Regions from separate parts of the Homo sapiens genome. Here region 2 is linked to region 1. Evidence: fine-mapped expression QTL. Tissue or cell type: whole blood. Region 1 holds a variant in brackets; the other region holds the start of a gene. All regions are shown on one strand. Distances are between the middles of the regions.

Region 1 (10,553 bases):
GATCGCGCCACTGCACTCCAGCCTGGGAAACAGAGCCAGACTCCATCTCAAAAAAAAGAAAAAAAAAAAAAGTACATGAATTCTTTGATGTACTTCCTTTCAAGAGGTGGAGCCTAATTCTCTTCCCCTTGAATGTGGCCTGAACTGAGTTATGCACTTTTTTTTTTTTTGAGACAGAGTCCTGCTCTGCTTGCTCAGACCAGAGTACAGTGGCACAATCACCACTCACAGCAGCCTCAACCTACTGGGCTCTAGTGATCCTCCCATCTCAGCCATCCAAGTAGCTGGGACTACAGGCATGTACTACCATGCCTAGCTAATGTTTGTATTTTTTGTAGTGACAGAGTTTCTGCATGTTACCCAGGCTGGTCTCGAACTCCTGGGCACAAGCGATCTGTCCACCTTGGCCTCTCAAAGTGCTGATATTACAGCTGTGAGCCACCGCGCCTGGCTGAGTTATGCCCTTCTAATTAACAGAAGAAAACAAAAAATGATGGTATGGAACTTGGAACGCTAGGTCATAAAAGGTACTCTGTTCCTCTTTACTTGCTGTCTCCTGGATCACTCTGAGGAATGTTAGCTGCCATGTTGTAAGGGCAGTCAAGCAGCCTAGAGAGAGGCGTATGTGGCAAGAATTGAAGCTTCCTGCCAGAATCAGCAAAGAACTGAGGCTTTCTGCTAATAGTGATGTAAATGAGCTACCTTGGCAGATTTTCCAACCCAAGTCAAGCTTTCAGATGGCTATAGCCACGTGAAAGCCCTGAGCCAGAACTGCCAGCTAAGCTGCTCCTGAATTGCTGACCCATAGAAACTATGAGACAATAAATTTGTGTTGTTCTAGGTTGTTGAGTTTTGGGGTATTTGTGATACAGCAACACATTTTATTATTATTCCCATTTTACCCACAAGGAAAGTGAAATTCTAAGAGGTTCAGTAACTTGCCAAAGGTCACAGAGTTCATAATAGCTATACAGGTAGGTTCAAATCCAGGGACTCTTGACCCCAAGGCCCACAATATTAATCAGCACAGGGTTAACTATAATTTTTGGACAGCAACCAAACCCATCATATTTAGATTTTTAAAAAATTTAACTTGGGCCTATGAAGATTATTGTATGGTAATTCAATTTAACTCCACAAACCTCAAATTCAAAAACTTACCCACCACAATAAAGTTTCCACACTTAGATACACATGCTGAGGATTCAATTCGATCTCCCAAAATCTGTTCCCATTTTACCTTCCCAGAGTAAAAGTCAACTGCCTTCATTCTATGAGAATGGGAACCAATGTACACAGTTGTAGATGACTTATCAAAAGTGGGTATTACAACCAGCGGTGAAGCATCTACACATTTGCCTGTGTCTGACCTCCACCTCACATGTAACTCCATTTTCTGAGTCCCTATCGCAGGTTTCCCCTCTTCAGAAACTTTTGCAACACAGGATGGATCTTTTGACTTCCCAATAAGAACTGGAGAATTTAAGCCTTTCAAATTTTGAATGTTGGTCTGTGAAACTGAGTCAGAAGGACAGGCTGAAGAGCAATGTCCTAACTTTGTTAAAAACCTAGTGGAATTCAGAGACAAAATTTGACTCCCTCTGCTCAGTACAACAAAAGCATTAATCTCATTGTGGCAAGTGAAAGTCATGATGGCTTTCTGATGTAAAGATGTTCCACTGGCTTCCTCTTGATTAATGTCGCTGAGTTTCCTTTTTGTGGCACAACTCTTCCTGAATGTCACATCTTCATCTGGAACCACTGTTTGAAGGATGTGATTATAAATCTCTAAAATGGAACTGCTGAGAATAATTTCCAGAAGCCCAGGTACTGATGTACCAACAAGTTTTTCAATCTCACTGAGGAGCCGGATGGACTTTAAGGAATCTCCACCACTATTTAAGAAGAGTGACTCATCAGGAACCCTCAAAAGATCTTCTGGGAGATTCAGAGTAGACTACAGATGAGAGAATAGAGAAATATGTGACGTAAAGGTCTAAAAGCAAAAGACTTCAACATTTACAGGTAATATATAGAGATGAGAGTACCTACATTAATAATTAGAAATATAGGTCGGGTACAGTGGCTCACGCCTGTAATCCCAGTACTCTGGGAGGCCAAGGCGGGCAGATCACATGAGGTCAGGAGTTCGAGACCATCCTGGCCAACACAGTGAAACCCCACCTCCACTAAAACCACGAAAATTAGCTGGGTGCGGTGGTAGCCACCTGTAATCTCAGCTACTCGGAGGCTGAGGCAAGAGAATCGCTTGAACCCAGGGGGTGGAGGTTGCAGTGAGCCAAGATTGCGCCACTGCACTCCCGCCTGGGCAACAGAGTGAATCTCCATCTCAAAAATAATAATAATAATAACAATTAGAAATATAAAATAAATACTTTTAATAATAAAAATAAAGTTTTAAATTATTTTATTTATGTTAAAGGAGATCACTGTACTACCAATTTTGTCACAAATTCACTCTAAAAGTACAAAATATACTTCCCTTTAGAGCAGTTTTCTTACCCATAAAATTGGGACAAAAACATCTGATTTATTAATTATAAAGCCCACAAGATACCAATAGCCAATATTTCTATAATATGGGAATAATTTGTCTTTGGCTGCTTCATATAAAGCAAAATTACTTTCCAAGAATCTAAAAATGAAGTAGAAGAGACTTTTATCTTAGATACCCTCTATTTTTAGACAAGGCTACACAATTACATCCTCTTTTCAGAACCCTTTAAAAAAGAAAAATCTACATTTTATTTAAGAAAAATTATTAACTTACTGAGATATATTTTTAAACAAACTCTCTCAAGTAGAAATAAATATTGTTACTGAAAGTTCTTTTAGAATAATGATGTAAGCCCTAAGTATAACAGACAACGCACTGTGCTATAGCAAGATTTGGCTATTTTCTCAGCTCTGACAAGAGTGTTACTACATTCCACCGATCCTCTTAGAGAAAAGTTATGTCAAAACAGGCTTTGTCTACTTGTGCCTTTTATGACTACTTCACTTTCAATAAATTTCTTTGTCGGAAACTTAATCTAGTCTTATAGTAGAGAATCTAACCTTCATTTTAATACAAATTGGATAAATGAAGATATACTACCTAACATCTGGGTAGCAATAACATTCTCAGAAAATTTTATCCAACTTGTTAGGATAATAGCAGTCCCTAAAGATATAAAACGACCTCTTTATAATAATAATTTTATAACTTAAAAATTGTACCTTCCACAAATACTGTAATTTTTCCCAAAGGTCCTCTTTCCCACTGAGCTTATTCTCAGACTTCAAGTTTATGTAGTTTAAATATATCTTGTTTAACTCAGAAACATCAATTTTGCCTTAATATAAAAGAGAAATAACAAATGTTTTAAAACATTTTAAAATTTCACTCAAAGCCTTTATATATTCATTAGCCATATACATTTTTCTTTGTACAACACAGAAATCATATAAAGAGTTTGTTGTCAACAATCAATTCTAAAAAGTTGTCTGATACTACCAAGAATATACAGAGAAATAGATGAGAAACAGGTCAGGCATAGTGGCTCAGTCCTGTAACCCCAACACTTTGGGAGGCTGAGGTGGGAGGATCGCTTGAGGCTAGGTGTTCAAGACCAGCCTGGGCAACACAGCAAGACCCTGTCTCTACAGAAAAATTAAAAAATTGGCCTGTAGTTCTAGCTACTCGGGAGGCTTAGATGGGAGGATCACTTGAACCCAGGAAGTTGAGGCTGCAGTAGTGAGCCCTGACTGCACCACTGCATTCCAGCTTGGGTGAAGAAGTGAGACCCTATCTCCAAAAAAAAAAAAAAAAGAAAGAAAAAGGAAAAAAGGAGCTAATATTTATCCAATTTATCTCAATTTCAAGAGTTAAGGAAATAGTTCCATTACCTGAGCAATTACTGCATGTTGAAGTATATATTAAATAAAAATGAAATTGGGAAGGCAATATAATATGGTGATTAAGATTATATATTTTGAAGTCAAACAGTCCTAGACAGACAAAACAAACAATAATAAAAATAAAATTAAAATAAAAAACAGTCCTAGACAGAATATCAATTCTATCACTGTGATAGGTTAATTGTATGTGTCAATGTGGGTGGGCCACAGGGTGCCCAGATTAACCATTTTTCTGACTGGGTCTGTGAGGGTGCTTCTGGATGAGATTAGTAGATGAAACTAATTAAGGACTCAGTAAAGTAGATTGGGCATCATCCAAACTGTTGAGGGCCAAAATAGAAAAAAGGCAGAGAAAGGAAGAATTTGCATGCTTTTTCTTTCTCTTTTTTGAGATGGAGTCTCACTCTGTTGCCTAGGCTGGAGTGCAGTGGCGCAACCTCGGCTTACTGCAACCTCTGCCTCCTGGGTTCAAGCGATCCTCCCACCTCAGCCTTCCAAGTAGCTGGGACTACAGGCGTGCACCACTGCAATCAGCTAATTTTTTTGTATTTTTAGTAAAGACAGGGTTTCACCATTTTGGCCAGGCCAGTCTCAAACTCCCAACCTCAAGTGATCCACCTGCCTTGGCATCCCAAAGTGCTGGGATTATAGGCGCGAGTTGCCGCCCCTGGCCTGCACCCTTTTTCTTGCATCACTGCTTAAGCTAGGACATCTCATCTCCTCCTGTCCTCAAACAGGGATTTATATCATCAGCTCCCCTGATTCTCAGGCCTTAGGACACAGACTGGATACAGCACCGACTTTCCTGAGTCTCCAGCTTGCCAAAGGGAGATATTAGACTTCTTAGCTTCCATAATTGCATGGGCAAATTCCTGACAATAAATATTTTATCTATCTATATATTGGTTCTGTTTCTGGAGAACCATGACTACTATACTAATATAACCACTAACTAGCAAAATGATTTTTGGAAAATTACCTAACCTCTTTTTTTTTTTTTAGATGTTGCCAAGGCTGGAGTATAGTGGTTATTTACAGGCACAAACATAGCACACTGTGCCCTCAAACTCTCGGCCTCAAGCATCCTCCACTTTAGCTTCCCTGAGTGGCTGAAACTACAGGCGCTGACCACCATGCCTCACCTAACTACTTAACCTCTTTAAGCCTTATTTTCTTCATCTGTAAATAGGAATAATACCACCTATCCACAGGATTTTCTGAAGATAAAATGAATTAATTAGACAAAGCAGTCAAAAGAGGGTCTATCACAATAAATGCTAGTACCATTTATAAAAATAAAGATTTATGTTATCATTAAGCTAGTTATGAATACA[A/G]TTAGTATTATTTGGCACTGAAACATATCTGCTTTAAATTACTTTACCGTGGGATGTAAATGGTAGAGAGTCGATCAATACAAGCTCATCCGGGACTGCATGACTTGGAAGATATTTCTGCAGTTCTTTAAAGATGTATTCTTTTACTGAAGCATCTTTAGACACCATGAAGAGAATTAATTTTTCCTGATTATACCATGTAACTGCACAAGACTCCACTTGCTGAAGCTCTTCAGCAACCTATAAGAGAGATTATCCTAATTTGCCAATGAGGATATTTACAAACAAGCTTCCTAAAAGCTTATTTTTTTAATGTCTGAAATCAAAACAGCTGAATTAAATTTTGGAATATACTGGAGATTTTTAAAAAATTGCTTTGCTACTGTTACTATTACTTGCACATAGGGTTCATAATATTTTTCAAAATAATAGATCCTAAAGCAAAATAAGCCAGTTAAATTTCACAAATATCAAAATCTAATTTGTCACTTATTTAAAGAATAACCATCTCTTCATGCTGGGGATAAGGGGCACCCTGAATTATTCATACCCTTTATTGTAATTCATCACTAACACAAAAATGTCAGGTGTAAATAATAGAGACCCCAGCACAGAAAATTGGTGGTGGCTGCTTCTACTACTTACATATATTAATAGATATTCAATATTTAAATAGTTCTACCTGTTGCACAAGTTCAATGTTAAGACGTTTGCCATGACGTTTGATCTGACTGTCTTTTCGTCCCAAAAAAAAAATCTCTCCATCTTTCACAGTCACAAAGTCTCCTGTAGCTCGCATTGTGCCAAGTGGTACTGTCACTTCATCATCAAGAAAACACACTCTGTTTCTGCCACCTTCCCAAGATATAAACACCAATGTCATAAAAATCCAAGGGAAATATATTAAAAACCATAAAATCAACATCTCCAAAAGTTCAGTGACTAAACTTCAAAATTTAAATATTAAAAGATGGGCTCATTTTAAAATGTTATCTGATAAAATCAGACACAATAAGTTCAGTAAATAAGCAGAGATAAAATGAAATTTATTTCTTAAAATTTATGGAATTAAAAAAATTCTTAGACTACTGATTAAATATAATTTTGGCTATAAATATAAATATGAAGGTCCAAGTTACAGTCTCTAAATTACTTTTATTAATGTGTTAGACATTATTATCTGAAATAATTATTGTAACATTTGGTATTTCATGACTATATGAATGAGAATAAAAATTATCACTGAAAAGCATGAGATAGACAAAAGAAAAAGACGAAAGGAATAAAATTAACACATCAGATCATTTTTCTTGAAAAAAAAATTCCCAATCAACAAATATAAAACAACCTAAAAATACTTGGCCACTGCCTTCCTGAATTGTGAAGCCATTAGTATCTCTGACTTCAACTACTGTTCCAAGAAGTGGAAATCCCAGTTGTACAGGCAATTCACATCTATGAAAATAAGATACAGAGCAGATTTAAAATTTTTCATTTGAATAGAATATTTTCCAATATATTTAAATCATACTGTACCAAATAAAGAAAAAAAAGTTTGTTACGCTCTAATTCAAAGACTGACAAGAGGAAAAGGTTAGGTGGAAAGGTAACCATATATGTTATTCATTACTATTTAGTACAAAAAGTTGCAGCAGTATCTTGGCACCAGCTATAGTAAGGAAGGTTCTGGATTCCCAACTTAAAATATCAGATACAATCGTGTTTCTAAAATTATTACCCCAGCACCTATCAAAAACACTGTCAGTGTTAAGATCCTAGAAATATACAGTCTCTCTTCTCTATATAGTACAATGAAAACCCTTACTTGAGAGTAGAGTTAAGAGTCTTCTCTGGAATCCTATAAATGGTCGCCCAACTTGATACCTCTGTGATACCATAAACATTAAATATTTGTGTTTTATTGCCTTCTCCTCTCCAGCTTCTGAGAACTGTCAATGATGGAAACGCTTCACCACCAAGGGCTAATACTCGAAGAGAAGTAGTGGCTGACAAAACAGTTGACTTGATAAGCTGAGATCCAAATCTTCTAAGCAATGTTGGTGTTGCCTGTAGATACATTAAAAATAATTTATTTATTTTCCTTCACTTCTTTAAAAAGGTAAGCACTGTAGTTATTATTTCAAAGTTAACATTTGGAGCCCACATGGAAATGAAGGCTGTGTTTATCAAATGGGAAATCCCATTTGGAAAACTACTGGTGCAACATTATCTTCTTGTTTTTTTTTTTTTTTTTTTTTTGGTTTTGTTTGTTTGTTTTTTGAGACAGGGTCTCACTCTGTTGATCAGGCTGCAGTGCAATAGCATGACCATGGCTCACTGCAGCCTCAACCTCCCAGGCCCAAGTCATCATCCCACCTCAGCCTCCTGAACAGCTTGGGACTACAGGCACGTACCACCACACCTAGCTAATTTTTAAAATTTTTTGTACAAATGGGGCCTGTGTTGCCTAGGCTGGTCTTGGACTCCTGGGCTCAAGCAATCCTCCCACTTTGGCCTCCCAAAGCTCTAGGATTACAGGCATGAGCCACCATGCCTGGCCCAACATTATCTTCCTAATGTGGGTATCACTTATGCTTTAGAAAAAAACTCAAGCAAAAATATTACTTATATTTCATCATACTGATTACACAAAAAGGTTTAGGATAAAAAGGACAAAATCTATAAAATCAATTTACCTTTCCTTTCTTACTCTGTATAAAAAGTATACAAAAGGGTTTAAAAATGTGCCTAAGTAGCTCTCTCCTCCCGCCGTCCAAGATGCCAAAAGGAAAGGCCAAGGGAAAGAAGGTGGCTCTGGCCCCTGCTGTTGTGAAGAAGCAGGAGGACAAGAAAGTGGTGAATCCCCTGTTTGAGAAAAGGCCTAAGAATTTTGGCACTGAGCAAGACATCCAGCCCAAAAGAGACCTCACCAGCTTTGTGAAATAGCCCTGCTCTATCAGGTTGCAGCGGCAGAGAGCCATCCCTCAATAAGCGGCTGAAAGTGCCTCCTGCGATTAACCAGTTCACCCAGGCCCTGGACCGCCAAACAGCTACTCAGCTGCTTAAGCTGGCCCACAAGTACAGACCAGAGACAAAGCAAGAGAAGAAGCAGAGGCTGTTGACCTGGGCTGAGAAGAAAGCTGCTGGCAAAGGGGATGTCCCCAGTAAGAGACCACCTGTCCTTCGAGCAGGAGTTAACACCATCAACACCTTGGTGGAGAACAAAGAAAGCTCAGCTGGTGGTGACTGCACACGTGGCTCCCATCGAGTTGGTTGTCTTCTTGCCTGCCCTGTGTCATAAAATGGGGGTCCCTTATTGCATTATCAAGGGGAAGGGAAGACTGGGATGTCTAGTCCACAGGAAGACCTGTACCACTGTCGCCTTCACACAGGTTAACTTGGAAGACAAAGGCGTTTTGGCTAAGCTAGTGGAAGCTATTAGGACCAATTACAATGACAGATACGATGAGATCCACCGTCACTGGGGCGGCAATGTCCTGGCTCCCAAGTCTGTGGCTCGCATCGCCAAGCTCGAAAAGGCAAACGCTAAAGAACCTGCCACTAAACTGGGTTAAATGTACACTGCTGAGTTTTCTGTAAATAAAAATAATTAAAATAATAGAAATTTTCCTTTAAAAATGTGCCTAAGTAAAACAATAATGAATAAAGATTTATAACAAAAGCTTTATTGAGATATAACTGACATATAATAAACTATTTTAAGTATACAATTTAATATGTTTTATGTATATACTAGTAAAACCATCACCACAATCAAAATAATGAACATAACTGTCTTAGTTGATTTGGCTTACTATAACCAAAATACTGTAGACTAGGTAAGAAATGTAGTGCTGACGGTTCTGGAGATGGGGAAGTCCAAGATCAAGGTATGGGCAGACTTAGTGTCTGGTGAGTACTCTACTTCATAGATGGTACCTTCTTGCTGTGTTCTCGCATGGTAGAAGGAACCAAAAAGCAACCTCAGGCTTCTTTTATAAGAGCACTAATCTCATTCATGAGGTTCCCACCCTCATGACATAGTGATCTCCTGAAGGCCCCACATCTTAATACCAACAGATTGGGGATTAGATTTCAACATATGAATTCTGGAGAGACACAAACATTCAGATGACAGCAATATTTATCACTCCCAAAACTACCTGTGTACCACTGTTAGTCTCCTCTCCAACTGGACCCCTTATCCAGACAACCACTGATCTATTTTCTGTCGCTACAGATCAGAATAATCTTGTATAATTCCATTAATATAAATTATATATATAATTATATATAATTATGAATAGAAATTATATATTCCATTTATATAAATGGAATCATAAAATAAGTAGCCTGTTTTGGCCTGCCTTCTTTCACTCAACATAATAGATACAATTCATCTATGCTGCTAAGTGTATCAACAGTTTCATTCCTTTTTATTGCTAAGTGGTATTCTATAGTATGGATCAGGACTGGGTTTCACTGTTCCATATAACATTTAGGATCAACTTATTCATTTCTAACAAAAAAGCCTACTGGATTTTGCTGGGAAGTGTGTTTAATTTACAGATCAATTTGGGGAGAAATGCAATCTCAACAATATTAAAACTTCTAATCTATAAAGACAAAATGTTATTTAGGTCTCTAATTTCTATCAACAATGCTTTATAGTTTTCAGTGTACAAATCTTGCTCTTTAGCTTTATTCCTATTTTATTGTTTTTTGATGCTAGTGTAAATATTATCTTAATTTCATTTTTAGATTTTTCTTTAATACATATACATATATATGTACAAATATATATATAGAAATACAATTGATTTTTGTATATTGATCTTCTATCCTCCAACCTGACTAAACTTTATTATTTCTAGTAGTCCTCCTCACCAGCCCCACCCCTCTACAATATTTTCTATATACAGGATCACATCAACTGCATATAAAGAGTTGTACTTCCTCCTGTCCAATGTAAGTATCTTTAGTTTTTTTCCTTCTTACCTTATTGTACTGGCAAGAACCACCAGAATGTTGAAGTGGCAAAGGCAAACTTGCTTGCCTTGTTCCCAATCTTAGGGTCAAAGCATTCAGTCTTTTATCAAGTATGGCGTCATATTACCTGTAGTTCTATTGTAGGTGCCCTTCTTCATATTGGGAAAGTTCCCTTCTATTCCTAGCTTGTTAGGAGCTTTTTAAAAAATCATAAATGGGTGTTAGATTTTGCCAAATCCTTTCTCTGCATCCATTAAGATAGGTATGTGCTTTTTGTTCATTATTCTTTACGTAGTATACATCATCAAT
Region 2 (10,553 bases), 35 kb after region 1:
ATTTTTGAACATCTTTTGCTTTATATTTATATAATTAATTTACTAAGACACATATTATAGAATGAATAAACTATTTCTTTGGCAGTTTATACTTACTGCAGAGTTCTAGAATAGAAATCACTATATGAGGATAACATTCTAGAACAATTTAAATGATTGAACATTTTGCAAATATTTGTTGGAATAGTGTCTTCTAATGGGTTCATATTTCAATCTATATCAACTATTATCCAAAACTCTAATTTACTGATTTATTGAATACCTTAGTGCCTCAAATTTCAGTTGCGGACAAAAAACATAGTCATGTTATCTGTGAAATCCTGTTTTCTTTTATCTAACAACAAAGTGTTATAAATTGTTATAATTGTTTTCCTTTAACAGATTAATGAAGCCCTTACATTTTGGAGATACTTATACGTTCTATTAGTGAAAGCTTCTAGTCTTTCCTAAATAAGCTCAGAATAATTAATTTAAATAATATAAAAATAATACTGGGGAAATGCAAACTTCTTTAGTCTCTCTACAATTGACCAAACAATATAGAAAAGTCCAATAGTAAACAGAACAATAACTTGCAATATACTCTATTAAAAATTTACATTAGCTTGGAGTAACATCAAATTTACAGTTCTAAAAAATATTACCCTAAAATCCAAGAGGGTAAGTCTATCCCAGGTTGGCAGTAGAGACCAATTTCCCGAATTCCTTGAAAGTCACAGTGTAACAGCAGAAAATTTGATAATTCAGAAGCAGCATTAACCACAGTCTTGTAGGTGTAGTAAACTGGAAGCTGGTTGTTGCATTCATCAAAACATACAGCTACTCTGTCCATATAACAGGAGGCAGCCTTATGCACCAATTCCTGAAGAGTCATTTCACTGAAGTTTATCTAAACATCAATTTGTAGCACAGAACCCTGTGTATATACAGAAGTGTTAGGGGGAGAGGGAGTTTTAGAGAGCTCGGTGGAGGGACAGGGAAAAACTTCTCTACAATAATATCTCACAAAAATAATTATATCAAAGATATATAAATGAAGAATCTCTGAACTTATGAAATTATGGTAACTTTACTGAGGACAATGAGGTTGAAAATTAACTTGATACATCAACCTATGCTGGGTCAGAGCATCAAAAAAATTTGGGAGGGCAGTGGTATACACAGATGAAAATGAAGCAGGTAAAAATGGAGACTTCTCTCTCAACGGACCACAATGTAAATATGAAATATATAAAAAATTAATCAATAAAATCAAATTTAAAGGACCCCACACTTAATTTTTTTTTACTTTCCTTCAGTAACTGTTACAGATTTGTTAAGATAGAGTAGTCAAAATCTTGTATGGTGACTTTAAAATTACTAATGTGGCCGGGTGCGGTGGCTCACACCTGTAATCCCAGCACTTCGGGAGGCCGAGGTGGGTGGATCACTTGAGGTCAGGAGTTCAAGATCAGCCTGGCCAACATGGTGAAACCCTGTCTCTACTAAAAATACAAAAATTAGCCGGGCAAGGTGGCATACACCTGTAATCCCAGCTACTCTGGAGGGTGAGGCAGGCGAATCACTTGAACCCAGGAGGCAGAGGTTGCAGTGAGCCAAGACGGCACCACTGCACTCCAGCCTGGGTGACAGGGCAAGACCCCATCTCAAAATAAATAAGTAAATGAAATAAAGATAAAATAAAATGACTAATGTAAATAAACTTTGCTTTTAAATTCCAGTAGGAGCTAAACTCAGATGAAAGCAAAATCAATCTTTGACAGAAGAAAGCAAAAAACCCTATTCCTATTCATTCAGTTCTAGACAACTATATATAAAAACAGTGTTTATTACTATACTATTAATATTTTACAGAAGTCATACTTGTATAATTGTCAAGAAGTAAACTCTTCATACTGTATAGTTTATTTTTAAATTGCCAATAAGTTCACTTAGACTGAAAATATAATATTACAACTCAATAAAGCAGTATATCAATGCAATGTTCTCTGGGTTTCTTAATGCAGATTATATTAAAAGATTCGAAACAGTATTTCAAGAAAGAAACACTCGGGATCAACGGTAAAAAAAATTCACAGTGTTTCCTTAAAGGTGAAAGTTATTTTTTTCCCTCTCTGAACTCTGTTTTCCATATTTTAAAGCAATTAAGACTTACCAAGTAGCCTGCTTCAGTAAAGTTTTTGTTTGTTTTTGTGACAGTCTCGCTCTGTTCCCCAGGCTGGAATGCAATGGCGTGATCTCGGCTCACTGCAACCTCTGCCTCCCAGATTCAAGCGATTCTCCCACCTCAAGCTCCCGAGTAGCTGGGATTACAAGTGCGCGCTACCATGTCCAACTAATTTTTGTTTTTGTTATTTTTTTTTAAGTAGACACAGGGTTTCTCCATGTTGGCCAGGTTGGTTTTGAACTCCTGACCTAAGTGATCCACCTACCTTGGCCTCCCAAAATGTTAGGATTACAGGCGGAGCCACCGCGCCCGGCCGAGTCAAGTTTTCTTTTCTTTCTTTTTTTTTTTTTAATTTATTCACACCTATTTGAATTGATTTCCTGACTCAAAATTTTCATTTATATCAACTAATTAACATCAATTAGGAAAAAGAAATCCTAAAGAGAGTAAAATGAACCAATAACTGCCAAGACCCATAAGTTTGAAAATGCTGTGATTTCTAAATATACAGTTTAAACATATAAGGCAACTTTAGTACTTACATTATTTATTTTTAGTAGGCATTTCTATAAATATTAGCTCTTTTTAATGCACAAGATACAATTTTAAGCTTTCCTCAGACATACAATGATCATTATGTAAATATAAGGGAGGCTTTCTGCAGCAGGCGCTTAAATTATGAGGAATGAGTTCATTTCGCAACATACAGGTAGCGCAGAAGGGTACCTACACATCTATACGATAATTAAGATGTTTCTTTCCATTTTCCCAATGGTTGCTACAGACATTTAAGGTAAAATCCATTCTTCTTGTCTCAGGTTTTCATTTTCATTCATTGAATCACAAATAACATTCTCTGCAGTAGAGAATACTAAACTTATTAATGCCCAAATGTTTGAGACCTTAAAAAGGAAAAAAAGGCCGGGCGCGGTGGCTCACGCCTGTAATCCCAGCACTTTGGGAGGCCGAGGCGGGTGGATCATGAGGTCAGGAGATCGAGACCATCCTGGCTAACAAGGTGAAACCCCGTCTCTACTAAAAATACAAAAAATTAGCCGGGCGCGGTGGCGGGCGCCTGTAGTCCCAGCTACTCGGGAGGCTGAGGCAGGAGAATGGCGTCAACCCGGGAAGCGGAGCTTGCAGTGAGCCGAGATTGCGCCACTGCAGTCCGCAGTCCGGCCTGGGCGACAGAGCGAGACTCCGTCTCAAAAAAAAAAAAAAAAAAAAAAAGGAAAAAAAAAAGCAAACTCTGGTAAGCAGATTTTACATGTAAAAGGAATAAATTTACTTGCTACAACTGTAGAAGCTGCTATTTAGTCAACAAAGATCTTAAGAGTGTCAGCAAATTCAATTGCTATGGGGCCTCTCTCTAGGCCACTGGCTGTTTTAAAAATGGATAAATAATCTAGAAACTTTATTTTCCCAATTCCCCGGCTTCTAAATTTACGGTATGCAACGAGTAACAATGCAATTTACAGCTTCCTAAACATTTCTTCATTGCTCTTCGAAACCACTCTAGGGGGTAGCTGAGCGCGGAGCACACTTATTTCCATTTGAATGGAGGGGCGGAGGCTAGTGACGCAGGAGTGTACACACAGGTCAGGGTTAGTCTGCACCACACCAGCACGCCAGACCCCGATGTATCAAATCCGAGGTCAGGCAGTGGTCCTGAAGCTGAGCAAATGTATGTGGAAGCAGGCTCAGGCCTAGCGGCACTTCGCCTCCTTCACACAGACCCCCGCCGGACACCGCGCCCTGCCGCGACTCACTTAGCAAGTCTCGCGGATTAGGTTTGATCGCATTCGGCCCTTTCCCGGATAGCTCGTCGCGGATACTTCTCACAGCGAAGCAGCAGCTCCCAGAAGCCGTAAAGCTATCCCAGAGCGAGGCACCATACGTAAATCTTCCGCGTCGCTACGTGACGTCAGTGCGAGCGACCCCGGGCCGGCTGCGTGGAGCTGGCGCTGCCTCTCCTGAAGCCGAGGCGCTAACTTGAGTGAAGAGGTCTATAGGCTTTTTCACTTTTGGTTATCTGCTCAGGCGCTCCTTGGGGTCGCGCATGGTCTCGGACAGGGTTTGCAAGGACTTCGGAGCTAACCAGTTTGGAGCCATAACCCTTTCGTACTTGCCAAAAAACTCTGGGCAAGACTCTTGAATTTTGAGCCGCAGTATTCTCGTTCATAAGGTGAGAATAAAAACATCACCTAGGGTTGATGTGAAGAGAGATGAAATCATTGTGAAATAGGAGAGTTATTGCTTTCAACCAATGACATTTTCTGGAAACGTGCTGGAGATATGGCTGCAGCAGTGACGCCTGCAAACGACGTTCCTGTCATCATGATGCTGACATTTTAATTGGGAAGCAGATTGAAACGATAACTAAGGAATTTGACAGGAGCATTTAGTAGGACCTGTAAAGAAATTAAAGCAGGTCCGAGGTGGAGTTTTGTAAACTATATGCCTGAATAGAACTTTCTGTTTCCAAGGGAATTGTTACAGTTGGAGACATGTCAATTATTACAATAAGCGTCAAGGGCAATAACAGAGGTGTTTTAAAGCTACTGTCTGGTGGCAGAATAATCGGGATTTTTTTGTTTGGGGGGTTTTAGCCGGGGGAGGGACTGCGAAGACAGCTCTGCATCAAAACAGTACGTGAGAAAAAAGCATAGGACGCTCTCGCAGCCGTAGTTGTTGGTGACAAGAAACTGTGCTTCTAATCTAAGCAAAAAATATCTCCACATGCCAACTATACTTTTCCAAGATGTACCATGGACTACTCAAACTAACACAGCCTTATTTATGTATTTAGGTTGGAAGTGGGCAAAAGTGTATCTTGTCTATGTTTCTATGTTTCTACGTTGGGATGACACCATCATCCACCCAGCCAGACAGTTATCAACCTTCCCACTTTCTTAACCTCTTACATCCGATTAGACCCTATGTCCTCTAGTTCTCAGTCTTGAGACCAGCACCCAGCTGGCTACATCAGAATTGCCGGTGGTGATGTTTTAGAAGATTCCAAATTCCTGGACTCCATCCCCGGAGGTTCATCCCCTAGTTTTCTAGTGAGGGGCCTAGAACCTGCGTTTTTTAAGTGTCATGTTCATCGCCATTACTGCTACTTTAGTTCAGGTCTTCTTGGTCAGCTTTTTCCTAAAACGTTTTCAGTTTTGTTTGCCTCTGATTGACTCTGAATTGCTGCCAAAATGATGTTTTATTATTCCAGTATCATCATCCAACTCTCTGATATTAATGATACCTTTTTTAAAGTTTTTCTTCCCTTGCAGTATCTATTTCCCTCAAGTTTCCTTTTTTTTTCTTCTGTTGATTTTGTGCTCTATCTTTCACATTAGAGGCTTTCCTAGGATGTCTGGTGGTCCTTATCTGCTCATATGTAAGTGGGGGTATATTTAAAAGTTGATTGGAAGCTGTTGAGCCCATGGGACGTTTGTTGAAAATCAAGTGGGAGAGGAGGGGTATGGAGGCTGCGGTATGTCTCAGAATTTAGTACAATTTTCACTTAATTCTCTTTGTTTTAGGTGCCTGATGTCCTCCATTACAGAGACCCCGTTTTACTCCTGAGCAATAAAAAAAGGCTTCAGAATAAGGCGGGGGCCGGGGGTGGCATAAAGGATATAACACTCTCCTAAATGAACTTCCAGTCCTTTTAGGTACCCTCTTCACTTCTACTTCCTGAAGCCAGTTTCTTAGTTTTTTAGGGGGTTCTGTGATACAAATAGAATTGCTTGTTGGTTTTGCTCACTGGGGGTTTAGAATTCAGGTTTTTCAAGTCAACTGAGCCCTTTGCTATTGATTCCAGAATTTCATTTCCATTATTCCTTTTCTTTAATCCTTAAGGGTGTATGACTTTAAAAATCCTGTTACTGTCATTTTCAGGGAGTCTTAGGGAGCAAATGTAGAACACTATGTTTAAGACAGCATTTTTACCTGATAATCCAAGGTGATCATTCTAAAACATATACCAGATCAGTCATAGCATTCTTCTATGAGAATAAGAAGCTTCAATGATCCCTCGTTGCCTGCATAACATTCAGACTCTTCAGCAAGGTAAACAAGAGAGTTCATTTTCTTTCCAACCTGATATCTCACAGCAGGCCACTGCTCCCCCACCCATCTTCCACATTCCCCACACCTGATACTGTAAACTCTAGTCATAATGAAAGGCTAGTAAGAGTTCTGAGAATACAAAGTCCTTATCATGTTTCCACACCTGTTTTGGCTGGGCTCAGGCTGAAATACCCTTCTTTCTCCATGCCTGCTTGATGAAAATACAGCTTAAACATGACTTCCTCAGTGATGCCTTTCTTCAAGCCCTAAAGAATAATTTATCCAGACTCCTCCAAACTCCATCCCACGAACCCATCATACTCTTGGGAGGGGTCATTTGTCATGGGACCTGCAAATTCTGGGTTTGCCAAGAATGTAAGGTCCTAACTGCTCTTTACCTAGATCATTTTTCAGGGTTGTTTGGGATGATCAGTTTCATAGCTGAAGTATTCTTCCCAAAGAGTAGGCTTGCTTCCACTTAACTACAAAAGTATGGAATCCCCCAAACTCAGTATTCCTCTCCTATAATGTAACCCACTGACTGCATGTGCAGACATCCATGGAAGCCCATCTTCACCATCCTGGTGGGACTTGGGGGACATGGAAAATGCATAAACATGAAGTTCTGGCTTCTGCTTTTGCCATAAATTACAAAGTTCTTTGTCACCCAGGAATCCAAGTTTACTGCCATAAAACAGTTAACAGGCTATCTTACTAACTTTAAAATAGGTTTCAATACCAGACCCTTCCCAGACAGCGACATATATTTCTTACAGCATCAGTTGTTACTGTTGCTGCATTATTTCCAAATCTGACCTCCTATACTAAATAGCACCCTTATAGCAGGGATTCATGTCTTAGGCGCTTGTTTCCCAAACTATTTTTTTTTTTACTCAGCTCCATCCACTTACACTGTTCCAGTTGCAGGGAAATATCAAATGCCCACCCTGTACCCTGCTGATATTTTGTACCTTGACTGGCACACTCTACTTATTTTAAGGCTTATCTCTCAGTTGTCAATGTCATTGTTTCCTTAAAAAGTTCAAAAATAATTTGGAAAATCCTTGACCCTACCTGAAACAAGGTTAGGTCCTCCTGTTATGTGCTGTTGTACCACATATCACAGTTGGGATAATAAGGCATTGTGTGAGTTACTCTAAGTGTTCAGCTGCTCAGGAGAAGGCAGAGAGCAAATTAGTGGTTGAGTTTTTCAGGCTTGGTGTTTTGACAGGTGTATTAGTCTGTTCTCACATTGCTTTAAGTAAATATCTGAGACTGGGTAATTTATAAAGAAAAGAGGTTTAATTGACTCGGTTCCACATGGCTGGGGAGCCCTCAGGAAACTTAAAATCATGGTGGAAGGCACCTCTTCACAGGGCACGAGGAAAGAATATGTAACTATGGAAGTACACTGGAAGGCCAGGAGTGGTGGTGGCTCACACCTGTAATCCCAGCACTTTGGGAGGCCGAGGCAGGTGGATCACGAGGTCAAGAAATCAAGACCATCCTGGCCAATACAGTGAAACCGTCTCTTTGAAAAATATAAAAATTAATTTGGCATGGTGACACACGCCTGTAGTCCCAGCTACTCTGGAGGCTGAGGCAGGAGAATCACTTGAACCCAGGAGGTGGAGGTTGCAGTGAACCGAGATTGCGCCACTGCACTCCAGCCTGGTGACGAAGTGAGACTCCATCTCAAAAAATAAATAAATAAATAAAAATAAACCTCACTGTTTGTTTTAACAATAACAAGCGTGGTAAGGGTGGTGTCAGTCCATAAGTTAGATAGGCAGTTGCTAGGCAGATGTCGTTGCAGAAGTATGTGTGTGTGTGTGTGTGTTGTGTTTAAGGTTGTGGTGGCCTTTGTGCAGGTTGTAAATTTTTGTAGTCTTTTGATAGTTCTTGTTATCAACCATATGTACATGAGAACCCTTCCCCTTCATGGCGTTTCCTGGCTCCGTTTGCCAGGGTTTTAATACGAGTGACTCCATTTTGAATCTGACAACTTTCACATTTCCCCTTTTGATCAAGGTCTTTCTCAAAAGCATCACTGATCAATCATCCTGTATTTAGGTTTTGATATCTCTTGGTGCCAGTCTGCCCTCATGTTGAAGGGAGTCACTGGTAACTAGGAATTAGCATCAAAACCCTTTAGCCACATTTGAACAACAAAAGAGGTTTGGAGGGAGTGGATCTCAGGCTAAGTCTACCTGGAGTCCACTGTTAAGTTCAATTCTGTCTGTTCCATAGGCACTGTCTATCATCTCAAAGTGCTGGGAGAGCATTATTCTCTTAGGAGTTGCATTTCTATGCAAATTTGACAAGAAACAGGTATAAAGTTCTTAAAAAAAAAAAAAAGAAAATACAAAGTAACAATCTCAGCATAATAGTTTTCAGCCGTGAACCTAGGCTTAAAGACAACCAGTTGAATAAATCAAATGATCATGAAGAATTAGGTGAGACTTATTATACCATGTGGGCTATTTTCTTATTTTGTGTATATAAATTCCCCAAAGGAATGTATCCAGGTACAGCATGTAGTATGAGCAAAAGCACAGACATCTCTTTGTTTAGCTGGTACACAGCAATCCTATTACTTAGCATTCCATGACTGGCTTGAATTAAAGCAGAGAGAGCTAACTCTGTTTTAAAAAAGACCATTAGTACAATTTGAACAAAAAGTTTACTGAGGATGTTGCCAGTATTACCCCCTGGGTGGACTAAAGGATTTATGAAGTCAGATTCTGTCAAGTCACCCACAATATCTACCGATTGTGAAATTATCCTGCCAAATCAAAGAGGTAGGCATAAACAAGGAAGAATTAAGAGGGGCAAGAGTGTCATTAGGATGGGGAGTTATGTTCCATCATCTTGGGAAAAGCTGCCCACAGTATGGAGATGTTAGCTTTTCATTCTGGTTTACAGTTTTAATGTCTCTGGTTATAGCATTGGGCAGTTTTGTGAACCTTTGGGCATGAGATTTCTCCCTTAAAATTCAGTTAAGTTTGAGCTTGGGCTTTAAGAACATAGCAAGTCTCGTTTTTAGTAATTCTATGGAAGAAAGTTGGATTGGAGGAACCTAGAAGAATTAAAGATCCAGTCCAGCGACCAAGGTTTACCTAGTTGCACAGAAATTTTCTTAACACTGGCAGGTGCCCTACTAGTAATCTTTCTTGTCTGTGACCAGTTTATCCTTAACATGGGAGACTTTTTCTTTGGATACCTTCAATATTTTCAGAGTGGTATTTTCAGAGTGGTGCCTTTCACTTAGTTAATATGCATTTATGTTCCTTCTGTCATTTAATGGCTTGATTGCTCATTTCTTTTAAGCACTGAATAATATTCTATTGTCTGAATGTACTACAGTTTATCTATTCATTTACCTACCCACCCTGACACTTTGAATCTAATCCTGCTCTTCCATGACACTCCCTCTTTCCCCATAGTGCTTCCTAGGAACTTGCCACGATGTAGTGCTTACTTAGTACTGCTTTTCTAATTACTTAATTTGTCCCTCATAGTCAACCAGCAGTTTTGCCTGGTTCATAAGAGATGGCCTATTTATTGAAATGCCTGGATCAGAGAAATAAGATATGACTAGCTGGTGCCAAGAATGGAGCCTGGAAGTTGTCTCCATGCTGTTTACCATAAAGCACTAACTAAAGTCACTATTTAAAAAAAAAAAAAAAAGGACACACATATTTAAACATACTTATTACACATATTTATCAACAAGGCATCACAAATAAGTCACAAAAAGTAGGCTTAGTTTAGTTCACAATATAAATCCCGTGAAAACACATTTTTCATCTCTGCAGTTTATAATACTCTACGTATATGAATTTAAAGCAGTTAAACAACATTTGAGATTAAATTGGTAAAAAAAAATTGTAATTGAATTCAGACTTCAGAAAATTGTGAAGTAAAAGGCCATGATGGAGAAATATTAAGAATCTGTAGAATTACTAAACTGTCACAGTATTATTTTCCTTTACAAAAGCATCTCAGTAAAACAAAAACTACAGAAAACGCAAAGTAAAATCAGAGATTTTGGTTTAGTACTTTCCCTGAGTCTCTTGTTTTAAAAATCAAAGTAAGGCCAGTTCAAAATTGACCCACAGGTCTTGCCTCCTCCATGCTGCCATGGGGAGTACATTTAAGACAAGAGGCTACGCATGTTGAGGTGGTCCCAGGGCTTTATTCAAATGCCAATTTGCCCGTGTCACTGCCACAGGGTTATCTGACCCACTGCTGCATGTGGGCTTAAAGAGCTGTCAAAATTTTATCTTGGCCTGCTATAATATAATATGCGAGACTA

What was found. PIP is the estimated chance that this variant, and not a neighbour inherited with it, causes the effect.
Region 2: it holds the start of AASDH, and the variant in region 1 is fine-mapped to the expression of AASDH in whole blood (INTERVAL, PIP 0.97).

What each region holds. Positions count from the first base shown.
Region 1 is chr4:56,348,102-56,358,654 of GRCh38, forward strand. It overlaps AASDH (aminoadipate-semialdehyde dehydrogenase), which reads right to left. Exons shown (of 15, transcript NM_181806.4): 6 at 7,081-7,322; 7 at 6,604-6,710; 8 at 5,938-6,110; 9 at 5,303-5,495; 10 at 3,241-3,356; 11 at 1,162-1,957. It also overlaps the pseudogene RPL7AP31. Among named protein-coding and RNA genes, the nearest start is that of AASDH, 34 kb to the right of the region's middle. The variant A/G (reference allele first, on the strand shown) is at 5,256.
Region 2 is chr4:56,383,426-56,393,978 of GRCh38, forward strand. AASDH (aminoadipate-semialdehyde dehydrogenase) reads right to left here and starts at 4,066. Exons shown (of 15, transcript NM_181806.4): 1 at 3,937-4,066; 2 at 645-916. The coding sequence starts at 874. PPAT (phosphoribosyl pyrophosphate amidotransferase) reads right to left here. Exons shown (of 11, transcript NM_002703.5): 11 at 9,937-10,553. RefSeq lists enhancers at 3,484-3,991, 3,961-4,330, 3,992-4,498, 4,361-4,410.